Homo sapiens: one gene and its partner. The protein of the gene in region 1 interacts with the protein of each later gene in a pairwise test. Each region holds a gene or a part of one and is shown on either strand. Other genes may lie near its edges.

What was found.
Region 2: the proteins of FAM133A (region 1) and NOS1AP interact in binary tests that used the Homo sapiens proteins (3 or more experiments, as listed by UniProt).

Annotation. Positions count from the first base shown.
Region 1 is NC_000023.11:93,669,888-93,677,405, reverse strand, and holds the start of FAM133A (protein FAM133A), read right to left. Parts: upstream 3,201-7,518; 5' UTR 3,132-3,200; exon of another isoform or gene 3,002-3,131; intron 2,726-3,001; 5' UTR 2,654-2,725; intron 1-2,653. Other genes in the region: NAP1L3 (nucleosome assembly protein 1-like 3), read left to right, coding at 4,102-5,622.
Region 2 is NC_000001.11:162,366,634-162,371,213, reverse strand, and holds the end of NOS1AP (carboxyl-terminal PDZ ligand of neuronal nitric oxide synthase protein), read right to left. Parts: intron 4,163-4,580; coding exon 3,747-4,162; 3' UTR 739-3,746; downstream 1-738. UniProt on the Homo sapiens protein: Adapter protein involved in neuronal nitric-oxide (NO) synthesis regulation via its association with nNOS/NOS1. The complex formed with NOS1 and synapsins is necessary for specific NO and synapsin functions at a presynaptic level.

The DNA of each region.
Region 1 (7,518 bases):
TTCAAAAATAAATGAACTTGCAATGCTTTGCTTCTTAGATACCTACAAAAAAAGATAATGCTGCTACACTTGTCATTATATACCTTGCGTGTTTGTGTGGTAGGAGTGGGTGGTGGAAGGGATTGTGTGTATGTTCATATTAAGGGAGGTATCAACAGATGTTAATGTACTATGTTCAGTCTGAGTATACTATCAGATTCTGTGTTATGTATCATCTCATGTAGAAGCATGAACATTTAGCCCCCCCGCCAAAAAATCATGTTAATTGAACAAAAAAACATATCACTATGCAAATAATTTATATCTAACCTTATTAAGAAAAACAAGCATATGATATGATAAAACTAATACTTATATTTCACAGTAGAACAAATAGGATATAATGCATCAATTAAATTGATTATGAAGAAAAAGCTTATTTTCTTTTAGATACCTACTACATAAAATTAAAGAAACTAATTGACCAAAAAAAAAAAAAAGGCTACAAAAATAAGTGTGTTACAAGATCCCTATGTATACACAATTAAAGTAGAGAATTGTGATTAGAAAAAGTCATCTACTTTCAACCATTTTCATTGCCTATATCTGGAAAAAATAATTCCAAATTGAAAATAACAATTGTTGATTAGTACATTATTTTTGTATGATGTTTTTGTAAGCTTTTTTCTATTTTTCATCTCCATGTTCCATTCCAAACTTTTCCAGGATCAGTGTGAGTGGTTAAGTAGTAATCTGTAATCCTTGAAAAGCATCCAAAAAACCCCACAAGTATCCAAAAAAAAAAAAACAACCAATTTTAATATGAAAGTAACTGAAAGTAATTTAGTCACATTTGCCCAATATCATGCGTTATTTCCTGAAGAAATCATAGTTGTCTTAAGTCAAGGCCAAAATCATTTTACCTTTAGGATTTCACCATTGATTAATTTCTTGCTTAATTCAGTGGCAAAAAAATATGAATAGACAATTCTCAAAAAAACATAAACATATGAAAAGACAATCTTACCACTAATCTAAGAAATATGAATACATAATATTGATAAATTAATTTGGAGATGTTGATTACAAATGTAAGTAGTGATTACTTCTCAGTGGTATTTTGAGTTACTTTTAATTTCTTCTTTGTATTTCAATGTATTGCCTGACTTTATCAATGAACACATATCATCTTCACAAAATGTAAAGTTATCTTAAAACCGACTCATTAGTTGTTTGCAGCAAACGTCTGACCAATGGATCAGAAAAGAATTTAGAGACAGACCCAAGCAATTTATTTAATGTGATCAAAATAGCATTTCAAGTAAGCAGGAGATAGAAAGATTACCAAATAAATGGTACTAGAAGAATTAGCTAGCTAATAAAAATAAATATTTTAAAAATCTGGATCCCTAACTCATGACTGACTCTAAAATACTAATTCCTAATGCTACAAAGTTTAAAACATAAGAGCATACATTTTTTTAAATCTCCATAATTTAAAATAAAAATAGTAAGTTTCAGAACAATATTTATGGTATAACATCAATGACGTAAATCATTGTTTCTATAACATATGTTTTGATTAAAATTATTCAACGAAAGGATATGCACTTAGTAAATTTCATTCACCATTATACTACAATCCTCTACCACATTTGCCCGGCATATGACAAGCACAAAAATATATTAGTTGAATAACAAAAAAATGAACTTTATGCACTGTTGGAACTGTAAATTGTGATAATAATTCTGCAGAGAGTTTGGCAATATGTATACAATAATAATTTCATAATATGAAATGATCATCCCCAAGCCATCCATTTCTAGGAATTTATCTTATGACCAATTTTCACAAGTGCATAGAAATACATGCTTTAGGTATCCAGGGACACTTTGATTATAGCAGGAAAATAGTATGTATTTAAGGGGAGAGATGGTATAGAAATGGCCACCCTATAACAGGAATCTGGTCAAATAAATTAAGGCAATTATTTCCATGGAATATGCACTTACTTAAAAATAAGATGTCGATCATTTGCCATGAAAATATAGCCATTAGTAATTGATAAATTAAATGAAAAGATTACAAAACATAATATGGTGTCACATAGATAAAGCAGTATACATAAATAGGCAGGTATGTATATGCACAAGGAAATTTCTGGAAGGAAGTGCATCAAAATGCTAGTAATTCTTATCATTTGGTGGTTAAGATTTTGTGTTTTTACTACTGTTGGAATTTTCTATATTGTTTTATCTTTGCAATGTTCACAGACTTTGACAATTAGAGATAAACAATAAAAGTAAATGCATTTATGAAACAGAAAAGCGTTTCCTAACTTTTAAAAAACGTGATTACATGACAAAGCACAAATTCTATAAAGATTAATCTAACTTTAATACATTTCCTCATTTGAAATGAATAATTTATCATATTTCATATTTTAATTTACCACTTGTATTCTATGACCAGGTTTAGATAGTTAATGCGGTTAAGTATGTAATTGTCTACATTAGTATGCCAAATTACCTCTGTGGATTTTCCTGTTTCCATAGAATTATCAAGATAATTCTCTAAAATAAATCTTTAAATGACTGTATCCTGTAAACTTTTATTCAGATGGAGATGAGTAATTTTTGTCATTCTTTAAAATGTGCTAAATATGATCCTTACCTTTCAATGAAAAGTAAATACTCGTCTTTTTTATTGTACCAAGGGAGTTGTTCTGTAGCAGAAAAAAAAATCCTGTAAATAAAAATAACAAATACTCGTTTTTAAACTTCATTTTGCAAAAGTTTATTCACATATTACTGGACTTGTAAATCATACTATAGTATGGCTAGAATTTTACAACATTAGAAGGAAATTGGTGGCAGATGACATCGCATACACTGACAGAAGATGCACATTCATTAGCACAAATTCCCCCTCCCATCCCACTGTTCTTGGAATTGAAACCTGCTGCACAAAAGTATAACGCAAATCATTTGCTTTTTAACAATACTACCTAACATTTAATACCTCTTTGTTTTATCTACAAGGTTGTTACAAGCATTGAGAAGGGCTACGTGGCAAGTTAGCAGCAAGGTTGGGGTATATAATATGCCAGCCTAAAAAGAGAAATATAATAAAAATGGTGTAACTGACTCACGGCAACATGGGTTCGCAAACCTTGTAGATGGATATAAACCAGGCTTGCCAAACATCACAGACAGCACTTATTAAATCAGCTTCGTGGAATGCAATACGCCTGCTGTCTAGTCCCTCCCTCCTCTGCCAATAACCGACTCTCCCCTTTTTTATCCAGTGTAAAAATGCATGCTCATAGAATATTTAGAGAAAATCGTTTTGTTTTTAAATCGTCCATAGTCACACTACCCAATGACGCCATTTGGACCATTTTCATTCAATTTTTTTTTTTTTTTTTTTTTTTTTTTACAGCTTTTTGTCAAGAGACCCGTGACAAACTAAACGGGAATTCAGGGTGGGCGGATGGGAGAAGGAAGACACGCCTCTTTTGCCCTTGTTAGGAACTATGGCTGGTATTTTTACCTCATGTCTACGCTTTTTTTTCTTTTTTAATTATAAAACTATAAATATAGACTTTTTGGGGGGCAGGGGGACACCTTCCAAGGGGTCGCACCTCAGCCAGCGAGCGGCGTCTGGGAAGGTGGGCGGAGCCAGGAGTAGTGGCGTTTGGCCGTTCGTTGGGCGTACAGTTTGTCAATTAAGGTGGACCAGCAAATGAGGAGCGAACTAAAGGCACACTGGGAACGAAATTAACGGGAGGTCTGACTGCAAGGGGAGGGGGCTCGCGATCTAAAACGAGAAGAGATCTCGGGGTCTCATACTGCGCCATTCGGCTGCGGTACATCTCGGCACTCTAGCTGCAGCCGGGAGAGGCCTTGCCGCCACCGCTGTCGCCCAAGCCTCCACTGCCGCTGCCACCTCAGCGCCGGCCTCTGCATCCCCAGCTCCAGCTCCGCTCTGCGCCGCTGCTGCCATCGCCGCTGCCACCTCCGCAGCCCGGGCCTCCGCCGCCGCCACTCAAGCATCCGTGAGTCATTTTCTGCCCATCTCTGGTCGCGCGGTCTCCCTGGTAGAGTTTGTAGGCTTGCAAGATGGCAGAAGCAGATTTTAAAATGGTCTCGGAACCTGTCGCCCATGGGGTTGCCGAAGAGGAGATGGCTAGCTCGACTAGTGATTCTGGGGAAGAATCTGACAGCAGTAGCTCTAGCAGCAGCACTAGTGACAGCAGCAGCAGCAGCAGCACTAGTGGCAGCAGCAGCGGCAGCGGCAGCAGCAGCAGCAGCAGCGGCAGCACTAGCAGCCGCAGCCGCTTGTATAGAAAGAAGAGGGTACCTGAGCCTTCCAGAAGGGCGCGGCGGGCCCCGTTGGGAACAAATTTCGTGGATAGGCTGCCTCAGGCAGTTAGAAATCGTGTGCAAGCGCTTAGAAACATTCAAGATGAATGTGACAAGGTAGATACCCTGTTCTTAAAAGCAATTCATGATCTTGAAAGAAAATATGCTGAACTCAACAAGCCTCTGTATGATAGGCGGTTTCAAATCATCAATGCAGAATACGAGCCTACAGAAGAAGAATGTGAATGGAATTCAGAGGATGAGGAGTTCAGCAGTGATGAGGAGGTGCAGGATAACACCCCTAGTGAAATGCCTCCCTTAGAGGGTGAGGAAGAAGAAAACCCTAAAGAAAACCCAGAGGTGAAAGCTGAAGAGAAGGAAGTTCCTAAAGAAATTCCTGAGGTGAAGGATGAAGAAAAGGAAGTTCCTAAAGAAATTCCTGAGGTAAAGGCTGAAGAAAAAGCAGATTCTAAAGACTGTATGGAGGCAACCCCTGAAGTAAAAGAAGATCCTAAAGAAGTCCCCCAGGTAAAGGCAGATGATAAAGAACAGCCTAAAGCAACAGAGGCTAAGGCAAGGGCTGCAGTAAGAGAGACTCATAAAAGAGTTCCTGAGGAAAGGCTTCAGGACAGTGTAGATCTTAAAAGAGCTAGGAAGGGAAAGCCTAAAAGAGAAGACCCTAAAGGCATTCCTGACTATTGGCTGATTGTTTTAAAGAATGTTGACAAGCTCGGGCCTATGATTCAGAAGTATGATGAGCCCATTCTGAAGTTCTTGTCGGATGTTAGCCTGAAGTTCTCAAAACCTGGCCAGCCTGTAAGTTACACCTTTGAATTTCATTTTCTACCCAACCCATACTTCAGAAATGAGGTGCTGGTGAAGACATATATAATAAAGGCAAAACCAGATCACAATGATCCCTTCTTTTCTTGGGGATGGGAAATTGAAGATTGCAAAGGCTGCAAGATAGACTGGAGAAGAGGAAAAGATGTTACTGTGACAACTACCCAGAGTCGCACAACTGCTACTGGAGAAATTGAAATCCAGCCAAGAGTGGTTCCTAATGCATCATTCTTCAACTTCTTTAGTCCTCCTGAGATTCCTATGATTGGGAAGCTGGAACCACGAGAAGATGCTATCCTGGATGAGGACTTTGAAATTGGGCAGATTTTACATGATAATGTCATCCTGAAATCAATCTATTACTATACTGGAGAAGTCAATGGTACCTACTATCAATTTGGCAAACATTATGGAAACAAGAAATACAGAAAATAAGTCAATCTGAAAGATTTTTCAAGAATCTTAAAATCTCAAGAAGTGAAGCAGATTCATACAGCCTTGAAAAAAGTAAAACCCTGACCTGTAACCTGAACACTATTATTCCTTATAGTCAAGTTTTTGTGGTTTCTTGGTAGTCTATATTTTAAAAATAGTCCTAAAAAGTGTCTAAGTGCCAGTTTATTCTATCTAGGCTGTTGTAGTATAATATTCTTCAAAATATGTAAGCTGTTGTCAATTATCTAAAGCATGTTAGTTTGGTGCTACACAGTGTTGATTTTTGTGATGTCCTTTGGTCATGTTTCTGTTAGACTGTAGCTGTGAAACTGTCAGAATTGTTAACTGAAACAAATATTTGCTTGAAAAAAAAAGTTCATGAAGTACCAATGCAAGTGTTTTATTTTTTTCTTTTTTCCAGCCCATAAGACTAAGGGTTTAAATCTGCTTGCACTAGCTGTGCCTTCATTAGTTTGCTATAGAAATCCAGTACTTATAGTAAATAAAACAGTGTATTTTGAAGTTTGACTGCTTGAAAAAGATTAGCATACATCTAATGTGAAAAGACCACATTTGATTCAACTGAGACCTTGTGTATGTGACATATAGTGGCCTATAAATTTAATCATAATGATGTTATTGTTTACCACTGAGGTGTTAATATAACATAGTATTTTTGAAAAAGTTTCTTCATCTTATATTGTGTAATTGTAAACTAAAGATACCGTGTTTTCTTTGTATTGTGTTCTACCTTCCCTTTCACTGAAAATGATCACTTCATTTGATACTGTTTTTCATGTTCTTGTATTGCAACCTAAAATAAATAAATATTAAAGTGTGTTATACTATAAAAATCTAGCCTTTTCTCCTGACTATAAAAGAGGGATGCTTATCATAGAAGAAAGTAGAGGATCACAAGGAAAAGGACAATTTAATAAAAAGATAACTATTATTAACATTCTGATGTATTTCCCACATCTTAGCTTTTCTGTTGGAGGACACTCATTCAAGATTTTGGAGAGCAATGGAACAAGGAAAAGGAACATGGCATGGAGGGAAAGGAAGGGAAAGGTAGAAGGGGATGGGGATGGGTAAGGGAGGAGGGAGAAAGGAGGGGTGGAGAAGAAAGAAGAGAGGTGAAAAAGGGAAAGGGAGGAAGGTGGGTAGCAGAAGGAATGTGGGGGGGGGGCGGTGGCAAAGGGAACTGGAGAGAAGAGGGGAAGGAGAGCAGGAGTGCCTCACTCACAACACCAGTTATGTAGAAGACAAGCTATGGACCCACCCTTCACCTTGACTTGGAAGGAGGTCACACTACCTTGACTCATTTTTTCTTACAGTGATACCAGGCTCTCATCTCTTCACCATGCAGCTGGTCACAAAGAGATCCTAAGATTTTGGTTTGAGATAAGTGTGAGGAGGTTCTCTCACACTTAAACTCAGTTTACCAGGGAGCTTTGCACTGGACATAAAGGAAGAAGCACAGCATATAATAAAGTGGTACCTTATTTCACATTTGCCATTTCCCAGTCCACAAATGTTTCCCTTGAAAATCTCATAGGAAACTGTAGCCGAAGTAAGAGAGGATTTTAGAATTTCTGACTCTCTAGGCCTAAAATGATCTATAATAGTCTTCCGTACCCTACCATATATAGTTTAGCATCTCACTTTTATTCTGCTTAACAATAGTCACTCCCCAATTTCTATAATGTAAAAATATTAAAACCAATGTCATATTTAACCCACCACATGTGTTCAGATAGTTAGGTTTGCTTTATGATTTTCCACAACATCAGGAAGCAAATTATTGTTTTTAGCAATACCACAGCGTTTTTTGTTTTTTTTTTTTTTGTTTTGTTTTGTTTTGTTTTGTTTTGTTTTAGACAGTTTCACTTTTAT
Region 2 (4,580 bases), on another chromosome or scaffold:
AACATGGCGAAACCCGTCTCTACAAAAAATAGAAAAATTAGCTGGGTGTGGTGGCACACACCTGTAGTCCTGCTACTCAGGAGGCTGAAGTGGGAGGATCATGGAGCCCAGGGAGGTCAGGGCTGCAGTGAGCCATGATCATGCACTCCAGCCTGGGCGACAGAGTGAGACCCTGCCTTAAAAACACCTGAAAAACAAAAAGCCCTGAAACCCAAAACCAAAAAAACCAACTGGCTGCTACTACCCACATATTCTAATGATATTTGGAGTTTGAAAAAACCTGGGATTGGCAGAGTCGGCAAAAATGGGTGTAGACGAGTTTCCCAATCTCAGGACTACTGACATTTGGGGCTGGATGATTCTTTGTTGTGGGGGGCTGTCCTGTGCATTGTAGGATATTGATCAGTATCCCTGGCTTCACTCACTACATGCCAGTAGCTTTGTGACAACCAAAAACATTTCTAGACATTGTCAGATGTCCCCTGGTGAGGAAAAATCAGGCCTAGTTAAGAACCACTGATACCTCTGATCCCGCAGGGCTGATCTATATAAAGTGCAAATGAAGCCACCATCTTCCTCTCCTCCTACAGGGAACTTGTGAATCTTTCCTCAATCCCATACCCTTGGGAACCATCTCACAGAGCTGATGCCACTTGGCTTGGGAAGTGGGGTGGAAGTGAGGGGGAGAGAAGGAGCAGGTGGAATAGAAGCAGCAAGAAAAGACAATGGAAAAGCTTCTAGAAATAAGAAAGGTTTATTTAGCAAAAGCCACTAGACTAGTGACAACATCCAGGGAGTAAGTGCACTTACATTAACAGAATCTTTTCCCAGAGAGTTGATCCAACAGAGTTAATGACACAACAGCTTTAGGAAGTAGAGTGCTAGTGGGTAGAGGGTTAGGAGGAAGCAGTCAAGCAAAGAGTAAATAAAAGGAATACAACGCCTAAACAAGATCAGTTGAGAGAAATGAGGCTAGGAAGAGGTTTTACAGAGAGAGCATTGATATAAGCAGGAATATAAGGAATATAATTTTTAATCTCAATATACAGTCCATCCAGTGCAGAGAAATTCTTTCCTGGCTCCATAACTGTGGGAGCCTCCTGTGCACGAGAGTCTGCTGGCACCTGGGGTAGGCTGGGGCAGGCACCAATAAGGTTAGCACCCCTGGTGTCCATTTGTCCTCCATATAGGGCAGAGTAGAAGAATGAAAAAGAGGAAGGCAGAGTTGAGTTAGCAGAGCAAGAAGCAAGGAGGGAGGACAGGGTGACATCGTCGGGAAATCAGGTCTGCAATGTTCCCTTTCCTGCCCAGTTGGCCCTGATGGAGGGTCGGTGGCTGGTGATCCTTCAAGGCTCCTAGATCTGTCCTTTGTCTCCCATCTCCACACACCAAGTATGCGCTGGTTTGGGTCCACTGGGGAGGATACCAATACACAAACTAGTCCTCCAGGGAGGGCCTGAACTGGGGAAAGGGTGGCGCCCAGGCAGGAAGAAACCACCATGGAACACCCCAAGGGCAGGAGTCTTGGATGGGTCCCAAAGTCAGCAACACAGATAACTAGTTTCTCCAATTCTTTAATTTCTCCATTTCCTTTCGTCTATCCAATCTCAAGTTTTTACAGGCCATTTAGAAGCGGCCTTCCTCACCCACTCCCTGGCCACATCCCACACAAGCCCTCTCCATCCACATTCCATACACCTAATCCACTGGCCTCTGGCTTTATCCTCAGCTCCGGCTTACGTCAGAAAACAGACTTTTCACTCCTCTGGACGTTCAAAATCTTAATAATCTAAGTGGTCTTGGACTCAGGGAACCCTGGGTTAGATTTCATAAGCTAGGTAGGCTCAGCCACACTGGATTCTGACAGCTGCTCATTTAGTTTCATGGATCTCACTTTCCTGGTTCTTCCTTCTCTGTGTAACTGTACCTATTTCCAATGGCAAATTAGATCAAAACAAAACAAACAGAACCATGCCTCTCCAACTAAATGCATGTTAGAAAACACAAATCTGTTGCTGATTCAAACACCCTGGAGATCCTCGTTCTTTTCCGTCTGGTTACAATCCTACATATATGTACACACTTTCCCTCACACATGTATATATAAACACATGTGTACACACACACACAAAACACACACACACACACCACCTGATCCTATTTCCACTGACACCCTGATGCACCAAGGAAGGCTAACATAAAACTGAATTTATTTCCTTTAATTTGGACTTTCTGGGCTACAAGAAAACCAACTGTGGCCATTAGAAGAGGACTGCACTTTTATTTATATATAATCTAAAGGAAAGCTAGGGTCGATGAACTCCATTTTGGGATAATCATATCCTTGCCGATTGACCCTCCAATAACACTGCAGTTTGCATCTGTACCTTGTTGTCTAGGATAAAGACTTAATTCCCCGAACATATGACTCTAGCAGGTCTCAGCAATCTCTTCAGGCATTTGAAAATCTGTTAACAGCCACTTATGGCCTTACAGGAGCAAAGGAGCTTTTCCTCATTGCCCCAGCCAGCCCGTTAAGGAGTAGTGATCCCTAGGCAAAGCCTAGATCATAAAAGATAAGACAATTGCACATGGCACTTTTTATATGTGTGCTCAAGGCACGCACGCAGAGAGATGGGCCAAGGGTGGCAATGGCTGTGGTCCCTGACCCAAGTGGCAGTGATTCAGAAGAGTGGACAAAAACAGTCTCACAGTCTCAGCTATCAGCTTGCATTCATTCTTTTTTTTCTTTCTCTTTTTTCTTTTTTTTTTTTTGCAGTAAAAACTGACCACCACTGCCCAGTGGAGGGGACAGGTTGAGAGGTAAGGCTGGGGGCTCTGGTCCTCTGGGGCTTTCAGAGAGGTAAAGTGCTGCAAAAGCTTCAGCTGGACAGGACACAGGGGAGGTGAGGGGCAATTCCCAGCTTCCATTTAGATGGGCTGGGCTACAGGCAGGAGGAAGGCAGGGCAGGACTTTCAAAACAGGAATCAGATCTAAGTGATTTGGAGCAGCAGACAAGCTGTCCTCCCCCTGGGCTCTCACACCAAGGGCCTGAACCATGTTAAAGCTTCAAGGCTCCCTTTGTAGCAACATTCAATGTCCGGCTGGAGAAAATGTTTGGATTCAGTTCCTCTAAAAGCTTATCCACTGTGACACATTCCAATTCCATGCTCACCCTACAAGGACTAGCCTGGCTTTTGCGGTCCAGAGCACTCAATCTCTACAATCTCAGCAAGGGCCTGGAGAAGGAATTCCTCTCATAAAGGTAGGGGGAGGGTTAGGCAACTCGCAGCATCGTGATATCCAGAAACAAAGTACCTGAGAAGGTACCGATGGCTTCCCTTCCTGGTCGGGACCATGGAGACGGGGAGAGTGAGGGGGTAGGGGGGCATCACGGACAAAGCGTGGGAGCCTGACGATGCAGCAGGTAGGGGCAGGTCCTCCAGCAGCCTGGCAGTCCTGGAGAGAGACCCTCTCCTGAAGCCATGGGCTCTGGAAGGCCTTACCTCCACCACCCTCTAGTCACAAGTAGGAGAGGAGCTGATTCACCTCTGGGAATCCGATTTCTTCCCCACTTTACCCTCCAAAGCAGAATCTCAATACTTTCCTGAAACCTCACACTCTCCCGGGCCCTGGCTGGCATTCTCCTCGGCAGTGCACATTCACTGGGCATCCCCTACCCGGGCAGCAGCCAGACACGGCCCCTCCAGCCACGCCGCCGCCTCCATCTCCTCGCCCTCGGCACCTACACGGCGATCTCATCATCCAGGCCGTCGCCCAGTTCCTGCCTCTGCAGGACATTCAGCAGGCGCGGCAGCTCCTCCTGGGACCACGAGTCGCGCTCCTCGCTCTCGTCCGTGTTGGACTCGTACTCCGAGGCGATGCCTGACTCTCGGAACTTGATGAGCTCCAGACCGCCCAGGAGCGCCTCGCCCTGCGCTGGGGGCGGGGTGTCCTCGGGCGGAAGAAAGCGAAAGCACTCCAGCTTCACCAAGCAGTCGCGCCTACCTAAGGGGCTGCCCGCAGGGTGGGCAAAGTCAGCCAAGCCCGCGCCCAGCGGCGGCGAATGCAGGTCCTCTGGCTTAGGGGTCGTGGGGTCACAGAGCACGGGCAGGGCTCCGGAGCGGAAGGTGATCTCCAGCAAGCTGTCCTGGGAGCCCACTGCAGGGGAGACAAGAGGTAGCAGAGGGGCAGCGTTAGGCAAGGTTGTTGATTTGGGATGCCCGCCTTCTGCCCGCCCGTGCCCTGCCAAAGCCCTTCCCAGACCAGCTTAGCAGCACCTCTCCGGGCTTTGGGTCTCTTAACACTTCACCCTTCCTCCCGCCCCCACATAGCTCCAGACACACCTCGCTGGAGGGGAGGAGCTTTGGGACGTGGTAAAGGCGGGGACATAAGAACCATATGATGGTTCTGGTAGCCACTGAAGGCTCTGAATAGGGTTAGTGGTAGGAAAAAGGTACCAATTGAGAGAACCATGTTAGAAGCCTGTGGTAACCTTTAGTACAATCATGTAAATAAGCATTAATTAGGATAGAGCAGAGTTTCAATGAACAATCTGGAAAATCCAGAGAGGCTTCCA